Linked DNA regions of Homo sapiens. The protein of the gene in region 2 interacts with the protein of the main gene of each other region in a biochemical or structural test. Each region holds a gene or a part of one and is shown on either strand. Other genes may lie near its edges.

Region 1 (4,379 bases), on a different chromosome or scaffold from region 2:
ACCCCAATCCGCTTTTTCCCAATAATTTTCTCAATAAATGTAACTGGTATAATTTAAGTGTTAAACTATTTCTCACCAAAGCAACTTTTATACCAAAACAACAAACTGTAATAAGGAAACCTACCAGGAATATACCTTCATACACCTGGGCCCAGAATGAGCACCACTAGATGATACAAGGTTTGATGTGTACGTGATGATGTCTGCTTCAGAGACTGCCACTTTTAAACATGGTGTATCCAGCGGAACAGCCCTCCACCTACCTTACCTAACCCACCAACCAGTGTAGTGTCATTGTTATAGGTCACCTGAAACATGGAGAAACAATAGCCAAGGCAAAGGTCTTCCAGTGTGGCCGATTCACAGATCAAGAAACAAGCCTAGGTACACATCCTGATTCTACTATCAGCTCTGGTCACATCAAGGGCCTAGATAACTGTCCAAGGAAGGAAGCCTGTCCGGCTACAAAGTCTAACACTGAGCTCCTCCTATGAGGTCTCCCAGGGAAACCTTCCTGCTATATGTTGCTTATCAATTAATGTAAAACTTGGAAACTGGCCTCAAGTAATGACATTGGATGTGCAGTTTTGTATATATGTGCAGAGTTATGAAAGGCTAGCTGGTTAGAGTTCCAGGGTATAAGCAAGGGGTTTTTCCTCATTTGGACTACATCTACAGTTTTCACACTGAACTGTGCATGAGCCCCAGGGGATGGGGGTAGATACTTTCATCTCTTCTATACATTGGGCTTCTGGCTATCACGTCTTTTAAAGAAAGGGTTTCCACTTCCAAAAGTGGGTAAATTTTAAAATACTCTGAAAGTGGGATGGACCCTCAGTGTCTACACAGATAAACAGAATAATCTTTTTCCTTGCTTCTCCAGCTCATTCACTTGTCTGGTCAGAAAGTCAGAAGTTAGGAGAAAGTGGGCTTCACAATGATTTTAAAATGCATCTTAACCATCTTAATCTAATCCTGGCTCATTCCTCAGACATCTTCTGAAAAGAGCAAACATAAACTTCCCACCTACAGCCACTTAAAGGAGGGCTGATCCTCCCCCTTCAGCAAGGTGTGCAGTAGTGACTGGAGGAGCACTTATGACCTTAGCCATGGGGTTCTGCCACTCCATCCACCGCATCTGCTCTGTGACCTCCTAGCCAGACCCTCCTAACTTGCCCTCAAGGTGTTTTTACCTTTAGCAGAGTCTGTTCTAACATAAGACTTAATATGCCTAGTAATTACTGAACCGGATGTACTTTCAGACATTCCAAAGATGAAGTATTCCAGGATTGTTATCAAGGATTGTACTTGTTCCCCATCTCAGGGGACTATAGTTTGGTCCCAGAGGGGCTGTTCCCCTTTTCCTCCAAAGGAAATACCAGATTTGAACCAATGACAACATTGTGGCTGACAAGACTTAACTCAAGTATTTAATAGCTTCACAAAAAATTCCTAATAAAGAGCTTATTCTGCATAATTAGAAAAGAAAGACACCAAGCCATTTAAACATAATTTATGTACATTTATGGCTTTATACAATTATAGCAAAGATTGTTCTTGTGTCTGTAAGTACATCAACATCAGGCACTTCTCAGAGTATCGGAACAAGAACGTGGAATCTGCACTGTTACTAAACTCGGGTAGCGAAATGCAGGAGGCATGACTACGTCCTGATGGGACTTACATGGCCACCCCTGGCCACACTGCCAGGCTGTGCCCACCTCAAGGAGAGGCCAACTGTAATGCCAGGTTGGTCTGTTCGCATAAACCACAATACATTTTTTTTAATGAATGATTATTCCCAAACTAAAACCAGAAAAGAAACTTCTCTTTTAAAATTAGTTATAAATTAAGAACTCTTAGGAGCTTGAATGTAAGAATTTTAAGTTGGGGCTGGGGTTATTGGTAGCATATATCCAGCAGTTGAACAAGTCCAATTTGTATATCGTTGGAGAATGATTTCCATTTTAAGCATCCTTATCCTCTTCTTGGGATGTTCCATTGATTTACTGCTCACTGGGATACATGTGCTCATTTAGACTTTGTCAGTTTGTCAAAGCAGAACTTTCCAAGTAATACATCTATTACCTAAATATATTCCATACGTCTATATTACGGAAACAATACATCTTTATATTTAAAATATCTGAATAGCTCTATAATACAATATGCTTTTAATAACAGTACAAACCAGAGAAAATAAATCAAACAAGGCTGCATAGGTGATATCATTTGCACATTTCACAAAGCAATCATGTACAATAACTGATATATACTCATTACTCCAGAAAGTCAGTATTCTTACAGGAAAAAAACTACCAGAGGCCACATAATGTTTGCTTTCCAGACAGACCAGATGCCTTTCCCTGGACTTCACTGTTCTCAGAGAGCTACCAAGGATTCATGACAGGATTTCAACACACAATGGGGGCTTGGGAGAGGTATAATTACCCAGACTCAGGAGGAAGATATATTTTCCTAAGAGCTACTCCATGAAGTAGTAAGATTTTAACAGTGATTTTGGCTGTAGTTGCCTCTTTAATGAACAAATGGGGGCTCTGAGGTTCCTTGTATTATGATGCAGTAATGGCACGGGAGGAAAGTGACAGTACGTAGTAATAGAAATTAGTACACAAGTACTTTGGCACCAAGTTCAGTTACATACCCGGGAGGCTGTGCTTAGAGGAACTTGGGTTTCTAAAACCAGCTATGTCTTGGACTGCCCCAAAATGAGGATGATAGAGTGGTGGCTGTTCAATGAATCTTCAAAAAAATGATCATCACAGTGGGAAGCTTACAATAGAGCTGGCTTACTGTAGGAAATCTTATCAGGAACACTTGTGTTCTTGTTAAACATTTAGGAAATACCAAGCCAATGAAGATGCAATTAACATACAAGACAAAGCAAGTGTGATGTGGGCTATATACAGAAAAATTAGATCCTTCTCAAGAACACAAGAGGAACAGTGCTGTGCACCTGTTCTCTTCATTGTGATGACTTTGGGCTTTCCACATGACTTGAAAATACTGATGGACTAAATAGGACACAAAGCCAATTAATTTGGTCTGTCAGTTACAGGTAATTGGAAAGTAATAAAACATAATGATAGGAATTACAGTTTAGGTTGCTACAGGCTAAAGAAATTTTCAAATTCTTAAGCCAAGGCTTTTAACATAATCTCAATGCACAACTTACAGCTGGTTTTCAAATAAATCTCCCCAATTTTTAAGTAAGTTCTATTCCATTTGCTACCCATCTGAACTTATGAACACAAATTCTACAAACCACTCAAGTCCCATTTTTAAATTCCCTCCTTCCACTTAAACTTCCACAGTGTGCTAAGTAATCTAATCTGCAGGGCAGAAGGGAGAATGAGATGAAGTATGAGTGTTGACATAATTCCTCAAGGCAGAACTACAAAACCAACCTCCACCTGGACTGAAACAAGAGCAAAGAATTATGAGGGGAAACTTTTGCTAAAGCTCAACTCAAAATGGTGAAGTGGATCAAAATCCCTCGTTTGACAAAGGACCATTGCTTTAGATGCAGATCTCCCTTTTCTGATCTACAAACATTATGAGGCCTCCCAGGACTACAGAGGTCTCTAGAGAAGACTTGATGCTATGCAGTACGCATAGTTCAGTAGAAGCAGATGAAATTTCTTTAAAATACATACATAAAAACATATTAAGTTATCCTAAATAAGAAACGCAAAGTGTCCATAACTATACATCACTTTCCTGCCCAACCAGGGCCTGAAACGTTGAATATGCAAGTACTAATTACAATGATTTAAGATTAGTCAGAAACATCACTAAGTAGCATCCCAAAGTGTACAAACCAGTTAAGCATGTATAAAATTAGTACTAATCCAGTTAGAATACAAAATGAAAATTATGAATGCTGCCCCAAATACCTGTGGTTCCACAAAATTTACAAGCTGACTATGTAACAAAGTAGACTCTAGTTTTAAGAAAACATTATTACAGTTCAATATCTATTCCAAAAATGTTCTTAAGTCCCAACAATAACATCAAAAATCATTTATCTGGAAATTAGAACCATTTAAATGTTTGTACAAATTTGCAAATAACAAAATAAACAAAAAAAAATAGAAAAGACCTGTACAAAGCTGGCATTTAATCTTTTTTTTTCCAAAAGTTTAACAAGTCCATTAATTTAGCAGATTGATAACAGGCTACTTGGTTCTCATGTGAATTCTGTGGCAACGTGAACAGGTCCAAGGCTGTTCAATGGAGATGCAGAATGGAGATTCAGTTCTTTGTGATCCGTCAGTTCCGCAGAAAACAGGTAGTACAAACAAAAGTTTAACTTATCAAGACATGAGGCCCATCACAGTATTACAAAAAGAGTATAA
Region 2 (8,319 bases):
CTTGGCTTCAGCACACTGGAACGTTTTATATTTTAAGGTTTTGTATTTAGCCACATGACCAAAGTATCAAGCACTTGTAAGTGGTTAAAACTAAACTGAAATAGGCAAAATGCTATTTTTGTCAAATAATTCCTCAAAACATACCTTTCCAGATTTCCATTTGATTTCGGTGGACTTCGAAGATGGATCACCACTCTCATTCAGATGAAATTCTTTGGAGAGAACTTTATTTTCAAAGTAAGGATTTTCATCAAAATACTGTAATAAATAATTGAAAGATTAGAAATATGAACAGGTCTTCCAACCAAAGCTCACATTAATTTCCACAGTGGCAAACAAGATTAAGTTAGAGATACTTACAAAATCTATTCTGTAACCTGATTTAATATCTTCAAATTCTGTCACTTCAACTCTGGTCAAATAATGCAGTGCCTCTTCATCTTCCTCCCCAAGCAGTGCAGACACTAGGCCAGAAAATTACAGGTCAGCTGAATTTTCAACAGGCACACACTAACAACAATTTAAGTGATCCCTTTAAAATTTTTCCGAACTTAGTGAGCATCTTTGGTTTTATAAACCCATTATTAACTAAAGGCAATTGCTCAATATCAGACTGTCACTATCTTTCATCAAGCAATTAGAATATAGCTTCTCCTAAACAGAATAGAAAGCAGTAGCTGTATATCTTTTCCCGTCTTTGAGGTTTTTTTTTTTTTTTTTTTTTTTTTGAAACAGTCTCACTCTTGTCGCCCAGGCTGGAATGCAAAAGCGCACAATCTCGGCTCACTGCAACCTCCCCCTCCTGGGTTCAAGCGATTCTCCTGCCTCAGCCTCCCAAGTAGCGAGTAGCTGGGATTACAAGCGCGCGCCACCACGCCCAGCTAATTTTTTTTGTATTTTTAGTAGAGACGGGGTTTCAACCTGTTGGCCAAGCTGGTTTCGAACCCCTGACCTCAAGTGATCCACCCACCTCGGCCTCCCAAAGTGCTGGGATTACAGGTGCGCCACCGCACCCAGCCTGTCTTTGTTGCACGCAACCCAGCATGCTGGACTAAGTCTTCACCAAGCTTCCTCCATTCTAACAAACACTGTTTATCCTTTAACAATGCCCTGTCCAAAACATACCTTGTGGATGGTTGACAAATGTTGTTACCCAAAAATTTGGGATTTTGGCGATCAATTCTGACCTCTTCTGAAAAAATGGTTGGCGGAGTTTGTTATATTTCTGTTCTACTTTCAAAATCTCCTCACTGGCTTGTTCATTAAGTCTGAAGCAAATGAAAAGAGATGTTGACAATGATAGTATTTAACAAATTAAAAAATTGGTTGAGATTACAGAGTGTATTTACTTACTAGCTTGAGTCATGCAAAATAACCAAATTATAATAACCATTATCACCTAATTTAGACACTCAAAACTAAGATGGCAATTTTGTCTGATTTATCAATAAACACTGAGTAATAATGACTGTTAAGAGTGCCCAAACTCAACACTCTGGTAACGTGTGTATTTACTTCGCCCACTCCATTTCCAGTCCAATTTCAATTGTTTCCCTCAAGCGCGATTTCTAAATAAAGTGGCTAATCCATAACAAAGTTGTAAGGCAAGTTAGAGCAACCACTGATGCCACACTGCTAAACCATCAGAAGACCTACACTGCAATTCAGACAATTTTCAGTCTTTGAAAGCAAACCCAAACCTTGTAAGGTCAATGCACTTTCAAAAACTTCTGTACAATCACTTCACCAAAAAACACTGAATCTACATAAGTATTTCCAACCAAGTTAGAATCATTTCCCCTTTGACAGTGGATAGATTTGACCATAGCTTCGATAATTACCGGGCTATTAGACACATCTCAGAAAATTTCTCCGAAGTATATTAAGAAAAATGTTACCTGTCTATTTCATTTTGTACTTCATCAATGTGTTCAATCGCTTCTTGCTGTTCTTTTTCTGCAAAAAAGGAGCAAAAAACTTAATTCTAAGATAAATTTACCTAGTTTTCCAGATGTTAATACTATAATATTCCAAAAGCCATTAAAACAAAAACAAAAACGCCTAGTACAAAGGCAAGCGTTCCACATGTTCATGCTTGTAGCTGACTAATTTCTTTTTAATTAATTAAAAGACCATTTACAAGTCATGCTGTCTGCTGGTTTACTCAGAAATTGGTTTTCTATAGCGCCTTTTTAAAGAGTTTCACTACAACAGACCGATCATTAAGGTTTCTACTATGAAAGACACAGAATAACCTTATTCAGAAGTCTTCACGTTTATTATTTCACATTATACACTTGCAAGAGAACAGTAGCAGCTGCTAACTAGAATATGGAAACTAAACCCATGACAATGATACAAATTAGGCCACCACTACCACCTATCAAGGTAAAACCACCTTTCATAGAAAGTTGACGACTCTGCTATTACGATGAAGATACCAGGCACGCCTACAAAGACTGGAAAGTCACGGGGCACCATCCTACACCCTGGCCTTCGCCTTCTCAGAACATGAACCCCTCCAACCCAATTCAGGCGGGCAGACCTCAGATGCGGCCCCACACGACTTTGGAGCACTTACTGGGAGCAACTATGAGATCGGAAAGCAGTGAGGCACAGAAGGGAGAGGAAGAAAAGGGGGTGTGCTCTGGAATAGGTGCCCTTTTGTCCTGTAAAGACTACAAACCCCCTACAAAGCTAAGTGGGTGTGAAAGGGCCAGATCGCGCGGTTCATTTCCGGTAACCATCCCGGATTGGCAGCCCCCCTGCCGAGAGCCTCCTAGGCAGAGGCCAGCTTTCTTAGCCATTTCCAAGACCCCCGATACACTGGTCGCGGCGCCAGGTTTCTCCGCACGCTGGCGCGACGGGGCGGCCGCCCCACGTGGGGAGTGCGCCCGGGCTGGCCAGAGCATCCTCCCGGCCGGCCAAGGCCCAGCGCGCGGCCGCCCGCGTGTTCCCCGCGCCCCCACCCCACCCGAGCTCCAGGCAGAAGCCCCGCCGGGGCCAGCCTCTGGGCGGGGGTGCCGGGGGCGCCGCCGCGGGCCGGGCGCGAAGCGGAACCGCGCGGGAGGTCGGGCGCGGGGCCGCGTCCGGCCGCACCATGTGGCGGCGGCGGCGGCTGATGGGAGCGAGGCATCATGGCGGAGCACAATAAAGAGAGGCTTCTCGGGAGGGAGGGAGGGGGAGGAGAGCGAGGGAGGGGGGAGAGGAAGGGGGGGTCTCCTCCGCCCGCGCCGAGCAGGCCGCAGCGCCCCCGCCTCGCAGCGCGGCCGCCGCGGCGCGGGCCACCCAGGCCCCCAGCCCAGCCGCGCACAAAAAAGGGCGCCGAGTCCGCGGGCCCCCGCCCGGCCGCGCCGCGCCCCCCCGCCCGGCGCCCCCCGCGCGCGCCCCGGGCCCCGCCGGCGGCCTGCGGGCCGGGGCGGGCGGCGAAGATGGCGGCGCGGGCCGGCCCCCGGGCTCGCTGCTCTCACCTGAGGTCTCGTCGGCCCCGTCGTGGTTGGAGTTGAGCTCCTTTTTACTGACTTTGGCCGCCGGCGCCGACATGGTGCTGCTCCGCGGTCGGGGGGGGAGCGGGGAGGGGGAGAGAAGGGAAGGCGAAGGGGGCGGGCAAGCGGCTTCCCCTCACGCCACACGCGCGGGCGCCCGCTCGGTCCGGCCGCCTCCTCCCGGCGCTCGCTCGCTCTCCCTCCCCCTCGCTCGCTCGCGCGCGCTACCCTCGCGGCCTGACGCCGAGGGACGGGCTGGGGCGGCGTGCCGGGCCCCGGCCCGGGCTCCTGTTCGCGGAGGGGAGGCGGAGGCGGCGGCGGCGGGCGGCTCGGCTCCCTCACTCGCGCTCGGCGATCCAGCCAGCTCGCTGCTCGCTCTCCCGAGCCGCCTCCTCCTCCACCTCCTCCTACGGCGAGGGGCGGGCGCAGGGCGCAGGCGCGCCAGGCCCCGCGCGGATGCTCCGCCTCCGGCCGGGGAGGCTCGCGCCGCGGCGCCATTGGCCTGGGCGGCGGGATGAGGGGGCGGAGTCGCGGCGCGGAGACACAGGGCCCGGCGAGAGGTGGGAGGAAGGCGCGCGGCGACGCACGGCCGCCCCCCGCGCCGCGTCCCCTCCCCCGCTCTCCCCTCTCCGGCCCGACCCAGGACACTGGCGCGCGGCAGGCCGGTGGGCGGGGCGTCGCACGGAGGCGCGGGTGCCCCCGGCCGGCGCGTCACGTGGTGAGCGAGCGGCTTCCCTGCTCCGCGGGGCACCGGGAGCGGGGCGCCCACCACCCCGAAAGTGCAGGCCCGGCCTCGTATGGGGGCCCCGAATTCCGCCCGGCCTCTCGGCGCCTTCCACTTCGTGGAGAAAGCAGGGGGCACCCCATTCTGGATGCCAGATGGGGAACTGCCGATCGGACTCAAACTCGGGCTCGTGTGCGAAGCCCCAGGCTGTGTAATCCGCGCGCAGGGCCATTCCTGGGTTTTAGTCCAAGCCCTGCCCAGCAAGCTTGTACCCTTGAGCAAGTCACCCTTCCTCTCTGAACCCGTTTCTGTTATGAAATGATAAAGGTTACGACACTGAAGCCACATTAAACTCGAAGTCCTGTGAAGGCAGGGAGGTACCACATTAGTCCGCGGTGCCCAGCGCCCGCAAGAATCATACTGAGCGTTAAGTGCCAGTTTCAGCAGCGCATGGCACGGTTATCTCACCGAGGCCTCACAACAGCCCCAAGCGATAGGCGGTGTTCTGTTCATAGAGATGAAAGGGGCCAACAAGTTCTACTTGAGAGGCAAAGTTCTGAACCACTAAGGAGGGCCAAAGCATTTTGTTTAAATAATACTTTTCAAGTAATGCGGATGCCCCACATTCTGTCCCTCCAGCACCCCAAGACATGAACCATAAAAAGCCAGAAAAACCCTGATTAGTAGCATTTGTTTGTTTGTTTTGAGACGGGAGTCTTGCTCTGTCCCCCAGGCTGGAGTGCAGTGGCGCAATCTTGGCTCACTGCAAGCTCTGCCTCTCGGGTTCAAGCAATTCTCCTGCCTCGGCCTCCCGAGTAGCTGGGGCTACAGGCACGTGCCACCATGCCCGGCTAATTTTTGTATTTTTAGTAGAGATGGAGTTTCACCACCTTGGCCAGGCTGGTCTACTGACCTGGGGTGATCCACTCACCTCGTCCTCCCAAAGTGCTGGGATTACAGGCGGGAGCCACTGCGCCCGGCCAGTACCATTTGTTGATTTTAGTGATACGCTGGCCAATTTCAAATCCTGGCCATGCAATAGCTCACTCCTGTTATCCCAACACTTTGGGAGGCCAAGGCAGGAGGATCGCTTGGGCCCAGGAATTCCAGGCTTCAATGAGCCCCAATGCAGCCACTGCACTGAAGCCTGAGTGACAGAGCAAGACCCTATCTCTAAAACAAAAACAAAAAAATACCTGAAATCTCTCTTTGGACATTTTTAACCAGAACTTGGGGTTGGAATTCTGCCTTCCAGAACTCACACTTTACCATTGGCTCTTTTTTTTTTTTTTTTTTTTTGGTGGGGGAGGGGACCAAGTCTCATTCTGTCTTCCAGGCTGGAGTGCAGTGGTGCCATCTCAGCTCACTGCAACCTCCGCCTCCCGGGTTCAAGTGATTCTCCTGCCTCAGCATCCTGAGTTGCTAGGATTACAGATGTGAGTCACCACGCCCTGCTAATTTTTGTATTTTTTGGTAGAGACAGGTTTTCACCATGTTGGCCAGACTGGTCTCAAACTCCTGACCTCAGGTGATCCACCTGCCTCTGCCTCCCAAAGTGCTGAGATTACAGGCATGAGCCACTGAGCTCGGCCCACTATCAGCTCTTAAAGCTCAAGCAGCATCTTTCATGTTCAAGACAGTGCACGGTGAGTGTCTTAGCCTCCCGAGTATCTGGGATTACAGGCGCCCACTACCATGCCAAGCTAATTTTTGTATTTTTTAGTAGAGACGGGGTTTCACCATGTTGGCCAGGCTGGTCTCGAACTCCCGACCTCAGGTGATCTGCCCACCTCGGCCTCCCAAAGTGCTGGGACTACAGGCATGAGCCACCCACTGTGCCTAGCATAAACTAAACTTTGTTGCAAGTGACAGAACCAAGATTCTAAACCAAGTAGCAATTGACAAAGCCCTTACCTTAAAACAGTTTTTCTATTTTTATTGTTGTTATTATTATGAGACAGGGTCTCTCTCTGTCGCCCAGAACCATGGCTCACTGCAGCCTTGACCTCCTGGGCTCTGGGGATTCTTACACCTCAGCCTTCTGAGTAGCTGGGACCACAGGCAAGCACCACTGCCACCTTGCCTGGCTAATTTTGTTTTTATCTTTTGTAGAGAGGAGGTATCACCATGTTGCCCAGGCTGGTCTCAAACTCCTGAGCTCAAACCATCCTTCAGCCTCAGCCTTCCAGAGCTCTGGGATTACAAGAGTTAGCCATCGCACCCTGCCTCAGTTTTTTTAATGTGACCAACAGTCAGAAGTACTTTTGACATCATGACCTAGCACACACAAACCAAAACTTACCCTTACCAAGGGTGATGTGATTCTAATTTCCTATTTAAAATGCAGGTCACACCCCACCAAATTGATTTCACGACCCGCTCCTGGGCTGAGTCTGTCTGAGAACACTATGCCAAGGGCTGGCTGCTTCCATCCTCAAAGCCTGACCCATAGGGTCACTCCTGACCCACAATGTCTCCTAAGTGCCTTATCTGCCTGTTTCCCAAGCACCTGCAGGGGTCCCAGGGAACCCTGTAATGCCTTCTGATGGGGGAGTGGGCTTTCAGGTTCCCTTTCTGGCCTCCCAACCCTCCCTGCCACCTCCCTGCCCCTCTTTTCCTGCCCTTCCCCACACAGTGCTTCTCAAGATAAATATGAGCACACTAGGAAGTTGAAGAGAAAGAGAAAGCAAAAGGGCCAGGGGTGTGAGTAAACACAGGCGAGCCGGGGGCACACTGAGAGGTTATTCACCCACTCTTAGGACTCTGCTCTCTCCCCGTCTCCAACACCAGAAGCTCTGCATTCTCTCTTCTTGGCCTCTCCCCTCACTCAGAATTCCTCCCTTGCCTCTCTCCTCTCCTCCTGGCCCCTCTGGTTGTTTTTTTTTTTGTTGTTGTTGTTGTTGTTCTTGTCGCCCAGGCTGGAGTGCAATGGCACGAACTCGGCTCATTGCAACCTCCGCCTCCGGAGTTCAAGCAATTCTCCTGCCTTAGCCCCCCAAGTAGCTGGGATTACAGGCATGCATCGTCACGCCTGGCTAACTGTCTTTGGTAGAGATGGGGTTTAGCCATGTTGGCCAGGCTGGTCTTGAACTTCTGACCTCAGGTGATCTGCCCACCTCGGCCTCCCAAAGTGCTGGGATTACAGGCGTCAGCCACCGCGCCCGGCCCCCGGCTCCCTTTGAAGAGGACAGAACCCCACCGCCAGAAAGACTGGAACAGAGAGAGGCTGGCATTCCCCCACAGTGCTGCAGTGTCCCAAGCACAGACCAAAAAATCTCCAGAGCCTGGAACATCTCCCCCGCCACAGACACATACACATCTCTTTGAGCCTCCTGTTCTGATCTGTAAAATTGGGATGTCCACAGCATACGGCTGTGAGGATAGAGAAGTGCTTGGCACAGCTTCTGGCATGCCATCAGTGCCTACTAAGCAGCAGGAGCTGTTCTTTGGGTTTAGATGAACCCCCTCACACCTTTCCATCCCTTCCAGTCCTGTTAATGCTCCCAGGAAGCTCACTGGAAGGAAACTAGGAAGACTCACCCACATTTTGCTGCGCACAAATGCACTCTAGAGCACTGATGATGTGCTAGGCGCTGTCTAGTGCTCCCCTTAGATTTCAGACTCACAGCAAGCCTGGAGATCAGTACTGTGGATCCCATTTTATAGAAGAGAAAACAAGCACAAGTTGTTTTATGTGGCTCACCCAGCAAGGTAGGTTTCAAGCTGGGCAGGAGGTCTCTGCATCCCATGTGGAGGAAAAGGGACTGAGACCCAGTAAAAGTGCCAACAGGTCCACACTGAGCCCTGAGGTAGGACTCCTCCTCAGTGCTTCTTCCATAAGAGTTGCCTGCCCTCAGCCAATCAAAGCTTCCCGTTTCCTTGCAGGCCCTGGGCCTATCCACACCCAGCCCAGGAAGGCTCCACCACAACCCTCCCCTATGAGCCAGACCTAGTCACCAGAACAGTCAACTCTCTATCCAGCTCCAGCTACGTCTCCCAAAATGCAGCCCTCACCTCTAAGTTTAATGGGGGGAAGGGCAGGCATGAAACTGCTGGTTACAATGTAATGACAAGAGGGTGAGGCAGCATGACTCTGGGACTCCTAACTCC
Region 3 (7,904 bases), on a different chromosome or scaffold from region 2:
GGAGGGTGTGAACGCCTACAATAAGCAGTCAGACACTTACCCCTTGTCAGACACTGTCCTTAAGCATTTTACTTACACTTCACTTTATCCTCTTAACAACCCTGTGAGAAAGCTATCATGATCCCTATTTTACAGATGAAGAAATAGGCTCAGAAAGGTCAGGTAAATTGTCTGGGGACACACAGCTTGCGAGTGGTAGAGCTGGGACTCACCCCCTCACAGATCTTGTTAAAAAACTGGGAACCAGCCAATCTCTTTAGGAAAATGGCCAACTCCTGGTGCTCTATTTCCATAGTGTCACTCTCTGATTTGGGATCCAGCAGTGTTATCCTGCTACCTATCAGTTCAAGGCAGACTTTGGTTTTCCCTAGCACAGTTTAAGTGCTCAATGAATATCTTAATTAGCATATGAAAGCAAAAAGCAGAAAATGGGGCCATGCATTCTGTACTTCTTCACATAGAAACAACGGCCAGGCTTACCCCAGCAGGTTCAGTCCCTGCCTCTAAAATCCTCTTCCCCTCTTCTAATCCAGCCTCCCCAGAGCTTACTGCAAGTCTTGTCTCCCCAGAAACAGCCCAGTGAAAGGCTCTGAAATGGACTCACTTCACTACCCATCGGGGAGCGACTTTCCTAACCAGGGCTCCGGGGCTGCCAAGACTGATCACAGAGGCAGTCAGTGGGACTGCCTCAAAGGGGCAGACGGTGGCCCTGCCCAGCCCAGCCTCCTTACCTCCTCCTCTCCACTCACGTCCTCCTCTTCACCTTCCTCCTCCTCATCCTCGTCCTCCTCGTCTTCCACTACCTGAGCATCTTCATCATACTCCTCCTCTGTGCAATCGAAATGGGGAACGGAAACAGAACTAGTGGTGAGCTGGCTCCGCCCCCCACACAGCACAGGCCCCTTGTAGCGTCTTCAGTGTGGGGCTCATGACCCTCCCACACCCACCTAAGTCCAAAGATGGAACACACTAACTCTCATGAAAACAGTGCTGACATAATTAAACACATCCTGAAGTTGTGCCAAAGATAAGCCCCCCTCACAAGTGTTATGCATGTGAAAGGCCCCTTCTGGAGGCCTCTCACACCGAGACCACCAGGAAATTGTCAGAGCACAGCAACAGGTTCCAGGGCCCGGGAAAGCGGCAAGATCAAATCAAACTCCTCAGGTTAAAGGTGAGAGATCTGAGGCACAGAGAGAACTGACTTGTTCAAGGTCACGCATCGAGTCACTAGTTGAGCTGGGCCTAGGGGACCTGGTCCCGGGACTGCCAGTTTTGGCTCCTTTCTGCCATATCACAAGATCCCCACCAAGGCAAACATGGTCTCTGAGTATCTTGCAAAACACTCCCAATTGAACAAAGAAAACCAAAATCCTGTATCTGAATTAATTAATCAGGCAAGTGTCTCCATTCTCAACTTTATCTGGCCACGAAGATGCATGGGAAAGCTGCACTGTGCTGGTGGCAAGGGAGAAGGGGAGGGAACAGGACTCCCTTCTTTTCCCTCCTTCCTTCCTGTAGGCCTCGACTACACACCACACTGCCAGGGAACCCAACAAGTGGCCTGCAGTCCTCCACTTCTGAGCACCTGGGGCTCCTGAGCACCTGAGCCTGTGCCCCTAGGTGTGGGGCTGTAGGCTGCAACCACCAGGGGGCCCCACAACCCCTCTAGCTCTGGACCTCCTCTCCACTACTGAATACCTAGATGGGAAAGAGGGGTCCTCAGGCCACACACTCTTCTCTCTCTATCCCCTCCCTCCCTCCCTGGGAGAGTGTCTAAGTGCGGGTCACACTACAGAAAGACTGTAGAATCCCACTCCCTGGGGGCTTTGGAAAAGGGACAAAAATTGAAGTGGGGATTCAGTTGGATGGTTTTAAAGGAGTTATTATGCAGTTGGAGAATCTCAGGATATTTCCATGAGCATGGGACTCATGCTTTGTTCTTTTAGGGAAGTCAACCAATGAGACAGATTAGGGACTATGGAAAACAAAGCAGACAGCCCTACTCCCCTCCATAGCTTTGGAAGGTGGTAGCTACCAGACAGACAGCCAGCCTTCAGTAGCTGGGTGGGGGCCTCCCAACACCCAGCCCACCCACCTCTGCAAAGCCAAGGACGAGCCCCAAGGCCTCAGCTGGGCCCCTGCAGCCCTGGGCCGCACCCTGTCACCCACCATCCTCATCCTCCTCCTCATCATCCAGGCCCTCCACGTAGCCCTCAGCATCCGAGTCAGGGGCCTCCTTGTCGTCCCGGTCATAGCCGTCGAGATATGTGAGTTGCGGGAGGAGCTTGAACACATTTTCTCGGTAGTCGTTCAGGTTGGTTACCTCGCAATTGAAAAGGTCTAAGCTCTTGAGGTTTTCTAACTTTTTCTGCAAGCGGAAAAATGAAGCCAACAGTAAGTGATTTGTGGGAGGAAGGTGGAGGAACAGCCCTAGCAAACAGGCAAGGATGCCATGAGATAGCATGCGCAGACCATGACTTCCAGGTGATAAGGAAGCTTGGATTTGGCTCTGCTTAGCCACAGTGTTTGCCCAGACATATCACCTGCAGTTTGTGGGCCTCGGCGTCTCCATCTGGAAAATGGGGGGTTGGACTGGAGGATCTTTGAAGCCTTATCCAATGTTAACACTTTTATTCTGCAATTACAGCTTCTGTCTTAACAGTGATTGACTTGAAATTAGCCTGGGGCTTTCTTGGTGCATGAGCCAAGAGGTTTACTGCCTCTCCCTGAGACTAAGGAGCCAGAGGGAAACCAAAAGTCAACTTGAACTAACAAACTAACTCCTTCTGCATCTGATAATGATGATGATAAGGGCGGTTAACATGGCACTTCATGTACTGAGTCACTTTATCTCACAACCCCTGTAAGGTAGAAATAATTATTAGTTAATTTCACATATGTGGAAATGGAGGGCACAGGATTTGGTAATTCATCAGGCAGCCCAACTTCAGACCTGTGCTCTTACTCTTTGAATATTGCCTGTCAAAAAAGGACAAGAGAAAAAGCAATGGAGGACCCCAATTCTGTCCATGGTATTTGACACGATGTGCTCTGTCAAAGCTTTACACCAGACGGGTTCTAGCCAATGTTATCCCTGTTTGATGGTAGAGGAAACTGAGGCCCAGGAAGTGAAGGGTCATACTGCTTGCAAGTAACTGAGCTACATTTTGACTTCCCACCTCACCCACCTTTGAGGCACCAGGTACAAAAAAATCCCATCCCAGGCTGAGTCCCCATTCCAAAGGTGGCCAGGTCTAACAAGGGAGTGAAACCATTGCTCCTTGGAGTCAATGTCGGGAGCTAGGTTGCTCTCTCTATGACCTTGCAGTTGAGACCTGGGTCATTCTCAGCAGAAGCCAAGGGCAGGGAGGAAGTCTTGACAGTGGTCTGTGTGGGCAAGCCCAGCACCTGCTACCAAAAGCAGCTTCCCGCCCCAGGACGGTAAGGCAACACACACTGACAAGCAGGGGCGGAGAAAGCACTGAGACACGTGTGATCTGGGCAGGGGGCAGTGGAGAGTGTGAACATGAACGTGCCTGAGTGCCTGACCCCTAATGGTGACTGAATCACAATGTTTTACAAGGATTTTATATACTCAATCCCCATACCTCACCCATATACAGAACTTCAAAGACTTTTTCCTTTTGTAATGACATTATAAAATCAAGACTTCCAGACAGATCAAAATAGTTTGGCTTTTTCCTAGGAGACCAGTGAAAGGCCTGAAAAGAAGTTCTGTGGGAAGCACATTCTACTAGTTGGCCCCAATGCCATCGATGGACAGGTAAAGAGCTTGGAAAAGAAATGCCAGTGTCCTCTTCTGCCACACTGGCCACCAGCAAGTCCCGTGAGCATCCATGGAGAGCAAGGAGTGCCTTTTGGGACAGAAACCCTGAAAACTCCAGCCCAATCTGAGGGATACCCAACCTCCCCTATAAACCCAGAAGGGAAATTTGGCAAACGTGGCCAATTGTCCTCCTGGCCTTTCCCTGATTCTAAGATGCCTGAGGTGCTGCTGCTGCTGCTTTTTTTTTTTTTTTTTTTTTTTTGGAGACAGAGTCTCACTCTGTCACCCAGGCTGGAGTGCAGTGACGCGATCTCAGCTCATTGCAACCTCTGCCTTCCAGGTTCAAGAGATTCTCCTGCCTCGGCCTCCCGAGTGGCTGGGACTACAGGCGTGTGCCACCACGCCGGGCTAATTTTTGTATTTTTAGTACAGATGGGGTGTCACCATGTTGGCCAGGCTGGTCTCAAACTCTTGACCTCAGGTGATCCACCTGCCTTGCCCTCTCAAAGTGCTGGGATTAAAGGTGTGAGATACCACGCCCGGCCTTATGAGGTGACTCTTATATGTATATTCACAACAGGTGTATTTACTTCATGTGGTAGTATTTCCTATTCCAAAAGAGTTGTTTTCAGTGACACATCTTACAGCTGATTTCCTTAAAATCAAAGGAATACAGCGAATCAGATCCTGGTAATTATAGAAAGTGTTGTTCTGAACATGACCTGCCCCTTTCTGGCTGGTAAATCAGTGAAGCTTAGGGGATGTCTATCTCTACAAGGATGAGCAGAGGAGCCAGAAATGCTACCCAGGCCCCTGAGAGCCTGTTCACTATCGCAACAAGGACTGGTGACCAGGGGTCACTCTTCTCCACACCACGTTGAGGAAGGCCTGCCTGCACGAGGCTCTCACACCACACGGCTCTCAGTCATTCCAGGGTTCTATGTCAGGACTGACTCATTTCTCACAGTTCAGGGGCCAGCGACCCAAGGAGAAAACTGGAGTCCACCTCCAGGGCCAGTTTAATTCTTGGATTGCTCCTCCCTTCCCAAAAAGGGGCAACAAGCCATGCCCTGAACCTGAAGACATTACAGCTCAGGTTTCCAAAGCTGAGCAGAAACTGAGTGGAAAAGCAGGAGACCAGAAATTGAAACTAGGGTTCTACGCTACCCGTACAATAGCTGCCCATTCTGTCTGTGACCTTGGTCAAGGTATTTAACTTCTCTGGGCCTCAGTTTCTCTATGGACTCAGCAGAAACAATAGCTCAATTCTATCTCATAGCACATCATGAGAGTCAAAAAAATTAAGTGGGAAAAGGACAAATGCAAAAGTAGTATTTGCTGATGCCAATTCCTCCCACCTCCTACCCCTGCAGGGAGGGGAGGGTCCGAATGACTTACCAGTGGCTCTATTGTGCTGAGGTCTTTAATTTTGTTGCCACTTAAATTTAGATGCGTGAGGTTCGGACACTTTTCTGCCAATACTTCCAGGCCCCCTGAGACTCTGTTATCGCTTAGTTCAAGCTAAATAAGGCAGGGAAAGAAAAAGCAGAAACAGCTTTTAAAATGAAGGCTACCGGCTCAGAGCTGCCCGGCTTTCCCCAGACGGGCAAGAAGGGAAAGCAGTCTCAGGCAATTGTCTGGCATGTTGGTGCAAGCACCCGGCTTTCCCTTCAATTACTCTTTCTAAACATAGGTAATAACCCTTCCCACTCCCCACCCCCGCCTCCCAGCACACACAGACTCCACTCTATTTACCTTCTTAAGTTTGTTTAACTTTGGTAAGTTTGCGATTGAGGTGAGGCCTACGTTGATTGTACTTAAGAATTCCAGTTCTTCAAATTCATCTGTGAGGCCTTCGAGTTTGCCTTCATTCGACCGACTGTTGTCCAGGACAAGTTCTTTCACCTGAAAGAAGGCCCGACCGTGTGAGCGGGGCTGAGGAATGGGGCTGAAGCAGGGGGAGGGTGTTAGAGGACTCCTCAGAGAACAGGGAGACAGACGCAGGAAGCAGTCAGTCACTCCGTCACTTCTTCTAGCTTTCCGGATCACTGTGCTGCCAACGACCACAGGATGGATTTGCCCACCCTGACTTTTCTGCCTTTTCAACATCTGGGTGAGAGGAGGCCTGTGGTGAGCCGAGCTGCAGAACCAGGGGGCCACTCCAGACAGGGGCCTTGGCTGTACCGCAGAAGACAAACCCAGTAAGCCCTGCTGCCTCTGCAAGGTTGGTGGTCTCATTCCAACCCTGCTCTCGCATTCTCCCAAAACCCACATGCACCAGCCACAGCATTGTTAGGGACTTCTGGGCCTTGCCCCGCCACCCCAATGCCCCCACAAGACCCCCACATGCCCAGTTGCTTTCACCCACTCCTGCCATCACAGCAGAGCCTGCCGCTGTAGCTGGCATTCACATGGCAGTACCCATGTGGCCTGTCCTGAGGCAGGCGCAGCAGACCAGGGGCTCCTCCAGCTCTCCCACCTCTAGCCCAGCACTGTCCAACAGAACTTCCTTCAAGGACGGAAACGGTCTGTACTGTTCAAGACAGGGGCCACTAGTCACATGTGGCCACGGAGTGCGGCCAGTGAGACTAAGGAATAGAGCTTTTAATTCTATTTAATTTCAATTAATTTAAGTGTAAACAGACACAGGTAACTACTATATTGGATAGCACAGCTCTAGACTTTGCTCTTCACGGTCCAGCATAGACGTGGAAGGAGAATGGAAACCCACAAACTTAGGATGGGCCCATAATGAAATGCTGAGATCTGTCTCAAAGTCTGTGCTTGGAGGCACCTCTGTGGCCCTGTCTTTTTCCCCACTCAGCTCCCTTACCCACAATTTGGGTCCTAAATCCTTTATTTCTAATGAGGTAGAAAGAACGAATAAAAAGCCACCCTCTCACAGGGTTGTTAAGAGGTAGACTTAGCTGAAGGTGAAACTGCAGGTTCTAATGAAGAAGGTAGAAAGACAGGCCGAGGAAAAGTAACCAGGTCGCAGGCATGAAATGACCCTGGGAGTAAGCAAAGGAGACCCGGTGTGTGGCCCTCCAGGCAGCTGGCCCAGAGTTCTCCTTCCTGCCCCAGAGCAGCCAGCTTCTGGGAAACCCGGCCTCTCTGGACTGGAAGACACCTTAAATGTGATCCCTGCCCACACCTGGTATCTCAAAGAGTCCCTTCAGCCCAGGACACAGCAGCCCAAGCTCCCTGCAGGTGCCAGGAAACACTTACCAATGTCAACTGGATTTGTTGCCTCCCTCCCTGGAACTTCCATGCACAGGCCCTGATTTCTCACCAATGGGTCACATGGCACAAGCCTTCCTTCTCAACAGCAGTCCAGCATTGTTCAAAGGGTTGCTCCTGCCCCTCAGGGCCTTTTCTTCTCTTGGATAAGCAGCCAGGCTTTCTAACCTGTCCCTGTCCAGGGCTGCTCCTGCTCCTTTGAGCAGGCCAACATGCCTAGCTTCTTCTTTCTGGGCCCAGAATGACTAGGTGCCCCTCTTACTCAGGCATCTCTGGGCCAAGTAGAGATATGGGGGAAAGGAGGTGGAAACAGAGTCCACATGAGGCCTGCTATGCCCCTCCTCAGCCCCCTCTTGCCAGTGGGCAGAGCAGGGGAGCACTGGGGTACACATCTGGATCTCAGAGTCCTGCAGGGCCCTGCAACTGCCCTGCCTTCATTCTTCACTGGTGGGTGGAGGCATGCCACTCCGCCCGGGACAGCAGCAATTTGTGGGTTTCATCTAGCACAGCCCACAGAGCAGGAGAACCAGGGAGCGCAGCCCTCTCCTGGAGCTAAGGAGCTCTCAGCCTAGGAAATGGTCACCAAAGCCCACCTTCCTGTTGGGTCTGGGAGGGGGAGGCTCAGTCCTTTCCCACCCCCTCAGTCCCTGAGATCCAGATGTCCAGGTCAAGCCACCTTCTCAAGGTCATGGCAAGAGTGCCTGGGAATAAATCCTGTGAGGCCTTCTGCCCTAGGGCAGGAAAGCATCGCAGAGCCAGGAAGCCAGGCCTTAGGGGGCCAGTGCAGATGGAGGGAGAGTAACTGTGTTGGGGGAGGGGAGCCATCTCCTTCGTTTGCAGTAAACACTGGAGTCACGTGGCCCACAGTCTTCTT
Region 4 (8,633 bases), on a different chromosome or scaffold from region 2:
TTTTATTTCCCCATTTTTGTAAATACTCTCTTCACTCTCTTCTAACCAAGTAACTCTCTAACACCATAAATTAGTTTCCTCTGTTATTGACTGATTTGATGGCTGCTAAGATTAAAATAAAAGTGTGGGTTTATATCTGGACTTTCTATTATTTTCCATTGGTCTATTTTACTTTCATTCTGACAATACCATAATATCTTGATTTCTGTAGCCTTATAATAAGTTTGGAAATCTGATAGTAAGTCTAAACATCCAATTTTATTCTTCAATAATGTTTTATCTTGGTTCCTCGTATATACATAAAAATTTCAGAATCAGCTTATTAATTTACACACACACACACAGCCATTTATATTTAATGTAATGAATAACACAGTTGAGTTTTAAATTTACTATCTTATTATCATTTTCTCTTTGCCCTATCTGTTCTTTGTTCATTAATTCCTCTTTTCCTGCATTCTTTTACCTCAGTCAGGTATGGTTTATAATTCAATTTTATTTTCTGTATTACCTTTTTTGTTGTGCGTTTTGATGTCATTCTTTCATTGGTTACACTTAAAACATCATCCTTAACACTGTTACCTTAAATTATCAAACGCAAGGATCTTATATTTATCCTTTTAAGGCTGTTATTCTATATTTGACTTTAATAAACAGTATAAGCCCCACAAGATACTCTTATTCTTTATGTGTCAAACAGTTAGTCTTTTATAAATTCTCAATCATTTACCCTTTCTGGGGCTGTTTATTCTTGCTTACATTTCTGTGATTCAATGTGAGACTATGTCCCTTCAGCTTGAAGAATAACCCTGAGTAAATTCTGTAGTTTATAGTCAGCTAACAATGAAGTCTCTCAGTTTTTGTCAGTCTAAATCTTTTTCATTTTTCGATTCTTTTCAATGGACACAGAATTCTGGTTTGATAGTTTTTATTTGTTTCTTTCTGTACCTGAAATATATTTATTATCTTCTACCTTCCATGATATTTCTGCTGAAATCAATGTTCATTTATATTGTTCCCCCAAAGGTGATTTTTTTAAACCTCTGGTTGTTTTTAAATTTTCTTTTTCGTCTTTCAGCAATTTGACTCTCATAGGCCTAGATGGGGTTTTCTTTGCCTGGGGTTCATTGAGCTTCTTGAATTTCTTGGTTGATATCTGTATTAGTTCATTTTCATGCTGCTGATAAAAACATGCCCGAGACTGGGCAATTTGCAAAAGAAAGAGGTTTATTGGACTTACTTCCACGTAGCTGGGGAGGCCTCACAATCATGGTGGAAAGTAAAGGGCACATCTCACATGGCAACAGACAAGAGAAGAGAGCTTGTGCAGGGAAATTCCCATTATTAAAACCATCAGATCTCATGAGACTTATTCACTGTCATGAGAACAGTACGGGAAAGACCTACATGATTCAATTATCTCCCTCCCACAACATGTGGGAATTATGGGAGCTACAAGATGAGATTTCGATGTGGACAAAGCCAAACCATATCAATACCTTTCGAGTTCTTCACCATGATTTTTTCAAATGTTGTTTCTGCTAGTCTCTCTCTCTCTCTCTCTCTCTCTCTCTCTCTCTCTTCTTTCTGCTCTCTCTGGATATTTTCTATTGATTTCTATATGAGACCATCAGTTTATTTGTGTAGTATCCAGGTGGTTTTTAAACCTATGTAATTACTTCTTGATTTAGCAATTCAACAAAGTTCATTTTATTATTTTTATGAAACCTAATATCCTGCTGAAATGCTCTGTTTTTTAATCCATTTTGCCCATCTCCACGGTAGTTCATGGTTATTTAAAAGCCCTTGCCTATTAGTTCCAAAATCTGTGTCATTTCTTGAGCTCTATTGACTGTATTTTCTTTCTTTCTTTCTTTCTTTCTTTCTTTCTTTCTTTCTTTCTTTCTTTCTCTCTTTCTTTCTTTCTTTTTTTGCCATCAGGTACTCTTTTCTGCTTCTTTGCATGTCTGGTAAGTTTTGATTGCATGCAGCATTTGTAGAAATTTTAGCTTATGTTTTCTTCCTCTCATAAACTTTGAGTTGTGTTCTAGCAGGTGGTTAAATCATTGGTAGATCACCCTAACCCTACAGAAGCCTAGTTTTTGCTTCGTTCAGTCAAATCTATTTCAGTTTATTCTTTCTCTTAGGACATCATCCTTCTATCTAAGGAGTATCCTTCAAGGGTTTCATCCTAATGCCTGAGGTGTTCACCAAAGTCTTTCCATTCTGACTGGAACCGAACTCCAACATCTCCTCAGAATTGTGTGATCTCTAAAATGTCCACTCAAATTTCAGCCTCTCTGCCACTGCACTGTATCTGTCAGGTCTCTAGAATAATGCCTCTGGACACATGCAGCCTAGCAATTCAGCTAACGAACTGAGAGGAATTGCCACACAGACTTCCGGTGCTGCCTCTTGGTACTCACCTCTCTGTCACCTTGCTTACCTCCAGAAACCTTAGTTACTTTATATAGCTCCAAGCTCTTGAGCTATATGCCCTCTGCTCAGTGAAACTGCAGCTCTCTGCTTATTCTCAACCTCCCAAAACTTCTGCTGAAAAAAATATCCCCTGAGGAAAAATAATCCATGGGAATGGGCTCATTCCATGTGCCTCCAGTTACCCCAAATTGCAGCACTATGTTGGTTATGGTTCAGAAGTAAAAAATGTTTGATATAGTTTTTCCAGGTTTTATAGCTATTTTATGGTAGAAAGGCAAGTGAGTGCTATTAGCTAATTGTCCAGAACCAGAGTCTCATTTCATAACTGCATAAATCCTTTGCTTATCTTGTGTATTTTTTTAAACAAACCTAAAATGCAGGATTTCTAAGTATTTTCCAGTTCTAGCTGATTTCCTTCATTTTAGATGAAAATCCAAAGGTAAATACTCTTTGGTTTCTGATTTTTGGCATCTTGTAAATAAGCATTGCCTCCAGTTTGGTTCATTCTCAGATCTATTAAGTATCCCATTTATATTTTCCTCTGAAATATAATTTGATAAATCTGCTGAATGATCGGGCACCAAGGTCAGGACCAATACCTTATTCAAGCCCAGCATGAATCCACTTACCAAGAAACTGGAGGCAACTCTGTCTAAACTGTAATTTGTTTGATACAAACATGCCATCTACATTTACCTTGTCCATAATGATAATGGGAAGGTTAGCTGAAATCAGGAAATACTGTATTATGAGTTTAGTGACTATTTACAAGTGGAAATGAATTTAATCTGGTATGATTTATTTTACTAAATTGTAGTTGCTTCCTTTTCTTTTCTCACTAGTCACAAATGATTTATTTCAGTATCTTCTCCAGAACATTGCCAGAGGCCAGTCTCAAACTTAACCATTGTATACATACCAGAATATTTTCATTAAAAATTAATAACTTTTGTCTTTCTCTGAAAACTACATAATCACTACTTGTCCATTCTTTTGGTCCTTGCCTGTTCTTTATGGATCAATATTATCAAAGCTACTCCTGTTTCCACAGGCAAATAACAATTCTATGTAATGGGAAAGATATTAAATCCGAATTCATGTTCCTCTTACTAGCTATATAATGGACAATTAAATTATTCCTTTAAATTCCTTTCTCCTTTAGTACACAAGGATAAAATACTCATTTGATTGTTTTAAAGATTAAAGAAGTATCTGAAAGTAACTGTTATATTTTCTTCTGAGAGGTATCCCAATAAAAAGGCTACAATATTGTTATTATTATTACTATTCTAGTATCCTGGATGCAATTTACCTAAGCCTAGATATTTTAATTAATTTAAGTAGCCACATGCTTTCTCACTAGCTATTTTCCCAGCATGATCTCAATCTTTTCTACGCAAAGTTTAGTCTCTTCTCTCCTAAAGATTGTTCTACCTAGAGAAGAATATAGGTTCAGAAAGGAATTCATATACTGGTGTTTCTCTAATCTCTTAGAATTACTTAATTTTTCAAAGAGCTCTATCTTTTCCTATTTATCTTCTTGTTCCAAATAGAATTAAAATCATTTGCTGCCTTTAATATTGTTAAATATTTCATTTCATACTATGCTTCAATTTCTTGCTTTTTTCTTCTTTTTATCTTCCTCCTTCCTTCCTTTTTCTTTCTTTTCTTCTTTTTCAGTTATCATTGTTATGCTTGTCCTTTCTTGTGAGATTCCTCTGTTATCTTTCCTTATGTGCTTTTTAAACAAAACCTCGAGAGTGCCGTGGGACAGCCTCATTGGTATCTTTTCAAATTTGGTATCTCTCCACTTTTTCCTTACATAGTTAGCTGGCAGTAGTACATAATAACCTTTTCTGTCTCTCTCTCTTTCTTTCTTTCTTTCTTTCTTTCTTTCTTTCTTTCTTTCTTAGATTTTCATTCCTCTTGAGCTTTAAAAGACTGGCTAGCAATGTTATATCTTTCATTTTATTTTCTGATTTAAAAAAGTGTGTGTGTGTGTGTGTGTGTGTGTGTGTGTGTGTGTGTGTGTACGCGCGCGCGCGCGCGCGTGCACGTCAGTGTCTTCTTCATGGATGCTTGTCTTATTTTCTCCCAAGGTGTAACTGTCCAGGGAGGGAAAAGTCAAGTCGTCCTCTATTACACTGCTCTGCAGAAACAGACTCACTAAATGTCAAAAAGTAGATGCATCAGACTGTTCCTTAGAGAAAGGTTTGCCATGGAGTCGTATATTGTAACTGAGCTGAAGTTCACTCATCGATAAGTTGTGCCCAAGGAATCGAATTCCTTCCAGTCCTTCTAAGCAGTCCAGGGAAACCAATTTAAAAGCGAACACAACAAAACTAACAGACCGGCAAAATCTATCTTTGAAGCGCCGCGGGAGGCACAATTTGGGAACAGGTGAGGCCATGCTGGGTGGGTGAGGCCCCCCTCTCTCCTGCTTGGTGTTCCGCTTTCAGCCAACCCACCCCAGGAGTACCCTGGGATCTCCTCGCCCCCTGCCAGGCGGAGAACGCGGAGCCCAGCGGGCACGCGGGAATGGAGCTAGGCGCCGGCAGGGCAACTGGGCATGCTCAGAAGCCGGGCAGGTTTTGGTCTCAAGCACGCAGCCTGTGCATTACACCAGCTCTCTCAGTCCGGGGAGGAGGAGGAGCAGGAGGAACGCGAGGAGGAAGGAGAGGAGGAGCGGCCAGCAGTAGCCACGACCGCCACCACCAGGCAGAGGAAGAGTTCGTGGGGAGGAAAAGACCTCTCCTCCCCCTTGGAGCGCCTTCTCTCTGCTTTTGGAGAAAGGGAATACACGATAAAGAAGGAGACGGAAAGAAGAGAAAAAGTGAGGCGGGAGACAGAGGGAAAAGGGCGTGAACAGAAAGGGCCGGAGCGTGCAGGGGAGCACAGGGCGCGGGGGCGGCACTGCCGAGCCGGGAGCGCTGCCGCTTGGGCAGGTGCCGCGGCCGCTGCCCGGAGGCGGCATGTGACGCGCGGCCGCAGCTGCCCGCGGGCGGAGCGCTCTCAGACCCCGGAGCGCACACCGCGGGGCCATCGGTGCCATCGCGGATCTCCAGGCTCCTCATCAGTCCGCCGGGGCCGCAGCAGCGCTTCTGGGAAGACGGGCGATGAACTGAAGGGCGGCTCCGGGCAGGGGGGCACGATCTTAAGGACAGTCGCTCCCTGAACGCGGAGCCGGAGGAGACGAAGGGAAGGTGGAGCGGACGCCACCCGCGCACCGGGCAGGCGCGGAGACCGGCGTGGGACAGCCACCTGGAGCGCAGCTGCCAGGTAGGGACGGCGCCCGCCACCCAGGCGCTGGGCAGAGCGGGTGGCGGTAGCGGCTGACCTGGTTTCTTGCCTTATCTCGTTGCGAAAGGAGGAAAAAGTTTTCGGCGCGGGTAGGAGAGGTCTTGTGTTTGGAGTCCAAAGAAGGGGCTGGGTAGGGACGAGAGAGGCTGTTGATTTGGGGAAGATGGGGGCACTTGAATTCCGACAGCGCGATCTGGTGCGGAGTTGGAGTTCTGGGACTGAGGGTGGGGAACGCCCGCTGGCACTCAAGTGCCCCGAAAGGGACGGGAATCATGCGAGCGGTGGCCGGGAGAGAGTCGGGGACGTCCCACCCCGCTCTCCCTCGCTTCGATTCTCTCTTCGCCACTGCCGGATCTGAGGCTCCAAAGTGCCCGAGCATGAGGAGCTACTGGGCTCCGGGTGTGTTTGTGAGCGCACTCGTGTGTTGAGCGTTTGTCTCCCATCTCCCCATTTGGTTTCCTGTCATTTCTAAGAAGGCTAAAGCTGGCACCCGCCAACCTCGCAGTGGGGCCGCAAGTTCGGATTGCATTTCAGGGGGCGAGAAGGCAAATTTGGCACTTCGAGTAACACTTGGGCGAAGGTACCTAGCCTAGTGCGCATCTTTACTGACCCGGGGAGAGTCTGCACTCGCGAGGCAGCGGCCGCTGGACTGCACCGGTTCTCCTCTTTGGAACACTTCCTCAGCATAGCCTCCTAATAGCGAGGTTAATTTTTGCGTGTTTTTAAACGGCGGGGGCGGGCGGACAGTTGACTCCAGCAGCAGAATTCACTTGTCTACTTCGCGGTGTGCGTGCTGGAATTGAGATCCTGTTCTGCATGCTTGTGCGTGTGTCCGACTCTCCTTGCACGCATTTGGAAGTGGTAGAGGCAGCAGGGATTTGGGAACTGCATCCATATGGATAGGTTTCAAGAATGCAAACCTTCATTTGTCTGCAAGTGTTACTGGAACCTGTCCAAAGGCTGCAAGGATATGTCCCCTCGATCCCCGCCAGTGTCCGTGTTTGCAATGTGAAAGGGCGGCCCTCTTTAGGACAAAAATGTATTTATCAAAGCGATGTGTGGTTAAGAACACTGGTTATTTCACCATATGCTTTGCACAGACTTTTCCTTTCTCTCTTGCCCTCTGAGTTCCAAGACAGATAACCTGTCCCCTCCCCCCATTTTGACCTTTGTAGGTTACTATTTGAAAAATAATTTTTAACTGGGTGCAGTGATTATATAGTCCAGATAATTTCATATTGTGAGATCGTTATATCGCATGAACCATTCATCATTATTTCCTGTGTTTAAAACAATGCCCATGTATTTACTTAAGAGAGACTATGAACATATAGTTCAGAAAGGGGAAAACTAAACCTAGAGCAGATACCTGCATATAAGCGTATTGTAGTGGTAGCACGTTAATAAAAAACTAAGGTATTTCTGTTCCAAATATTGTGGGATAGACGAGGTGTTGAGTGCACCCTCTTGTTATAAGAGCTGATATCCCGAAGTATACATGTGCAAGGAACATGCCTGCTTCTTCAGTGTGCATTCCAACATGCCACAGAAATGTGGTTTACATCATAGCTTCTACCGCCGAATAGTCTATCTTTAGATTTTGTTTACATGGTTTGTCTCAATTAGCTTAATACATAATTAGCTATTGTTGGGCTAGAAAGCACGTTATTTTTGTAGTGGTTTCCATATGGAAATATAACGTTCGCTTAATTACTAATTTAAAAATAATGACATTGCCGGTCGGATTTAGAATGTTTCTCTAGGTTGGGGGGTATTATGAGATCGAATGTAGCACGAAAATAGCAATGTCGAAATATTGTTTTTTAAATAACGTTGCGTCATTAATCGAATGAACATGACAGTTGAAAAAGAAAATGAGATAAAAAGTAGACTTTGAAAAATCTTTATAAATTTTCTGTGTGGAAAATTATTGTAAGGGAAAAATGTAATTTGGGAAAAGGAGCAAATGTGGAATTGGTCAAGTTTTAAAGAAAGAACAAGTGTTATAATGAGTAGTTCTGTATTAAACCTACATTTAAGCTTATTTAGGAAAGTTTGCTTTAAAATTTAGAGAAATCTATGATGAATATTCAGTACCCTACTTTTATTCTGGGGTAGGGGGAAGTAAAATGTCACTTCAAAAGTATTATTTACTTCTGAAGATTATTTAGGCATGTGTAAAAGTTCTTTAGAGTGTACCTTCTCATTTTTTCCTTATAAAGACAAATGATTTAATTTCTTAACAAAGAAAATTTGTTATAAATTAGAGTATGTAAAAATGTGAAGTTCTTTTAATGATATTTTAGCCTTTAATTGCAGGCAACCTGTTGAAAGAGGGCATGGAAAAAATGTGAAATTGGCAGACATAGAATTTCTTAGATTCACACTTGTAAATTGAATAGACAGAAAGTTAAACGATATGGTTAAAAGCAAAGTTGCCTTATGTATTTGTAAATTATAAAGTAATACATATTTTCAGATTTTTAGTTAAAATCTCTGTCATTTTCCCAGCCAACATATTGTTCTTGCCTAATAACTTTGTTAACATTGGCAAGCTCAGTTGCTTACTGCTAAATGGCCTGGACGATTCCAGTGTGACTATTAAGAAATTGGGTCTTGTTTGCAGTGCCGGGAAGTTTATACTGGGAACAGCTGTGGTGTAGTGGCACTTTAGATAGGAGATGAATGAACCGTGAATCATATGAAGATGGAGACTGATCAGTATGCAGAGAAGTGTATCTGTCCTTCACTTATGGAACCTGATTTTATATCATATGATGACTAATAGCATTATTCTCACAGTGTGATTTTGGAGGATCAGTGAGTAACTAGAGATGTTGTCTTTTATGTTTGTGAATTTAAAATGTATTCTCCTTACATAAGACTATTGTAAA

What was found.
Region 1: the proteins of SET (region 2) and FOXO1 form a complex in vitro, tested with the Homo sapiens proteins (one study listed by BioGRID).
Region 3: the proteins of SET (region 2) and ANP32A form a complex in vitro, tested with the Homo sapiens proteins (2 studies listed by BioGRID).
Region 4: the proteins of SET (region 2) and CHRM3 form a complex in vitro, tested with the Homo sapiens proteins (one study listed by BioGRID).

Annotation. Positions count from the first base shown.
Region 1 is NC_000013.11:40,554,263-40,558,641, forward strand, and holds the end of FOXO1 (forkhead box protein O1), read right to left. Parts: 3' UTR 1,405-4,379; downstream 1-1,404. UniProt on the Homo sapiens protein: Transcription factor that is the main target of insulin signaling and regulates metabolic homeostasis in response to oxidative stress.
Region 2 is NC_000009.12:128,684,807-128,693,125, reverse strand, and holds the start of SET (protein SET), read right to left. Parts: upstream 3,905-8,319; 5' UTR 3,544-3,904; coding exon 3,471-3,543; intron 3,153-3,470; exon of another isoform or gene 3,140-3,152; coding exon of another isoform or gene 3,100-3,139; intron 1,957-3,099; coding exon 1,899-1,956; intron 1,269-1,898; coding exon 1,126-1,268; intron 465-1,125; coding exon 361-464; intron 259-360; coding exon 145-258; intron 1-144. UniProt on the Homo sapiens protein: Multitasking protein, involved in apoptosis, transcription, nucleosome assembly and histone chaperoning. Isoform 2 anti-apoptotic activity is mediated by inhibition of the GZMA-activated DNase, NME1.
Region 3 is NC_000015.10:68,782,225-68,790,128, forward strand, and holds part of ANP32A (acidic leucine-rich nuclear phosphoprotein 32 family member A), read right to left. Parts: intron 5,696-7,904; coding exon 5,546-5,695; intron 5,312-5,545; coding exon 5,189-5,311; intron 2,372-5,188; coding exon 2,173-2,371; intron 830-2,172; coding exon 732-829; intron 1-731. UniProt on the Homo sapiens protein: Multifunctional protein that is involved in the regulation of many processes including tumor suppression, apoptosis, cell cycle progression or transcription. Promotes apoptosis by favouring the activation of caspase-9/CASP9 and allowing apoptosome formation.
Region 4 is NC_000001.11:239,381,510-239,390,142, forward strand, and holds the start of CHRM3 (muscarinic acetylcholine receptor M3), read left to right. Parts: upstream 1-5,058; 5' UTR 5,059-5,718; intron 5,719-5,731; exon of another isoform or gene 5,732-5,828; intron 5,829-8,633.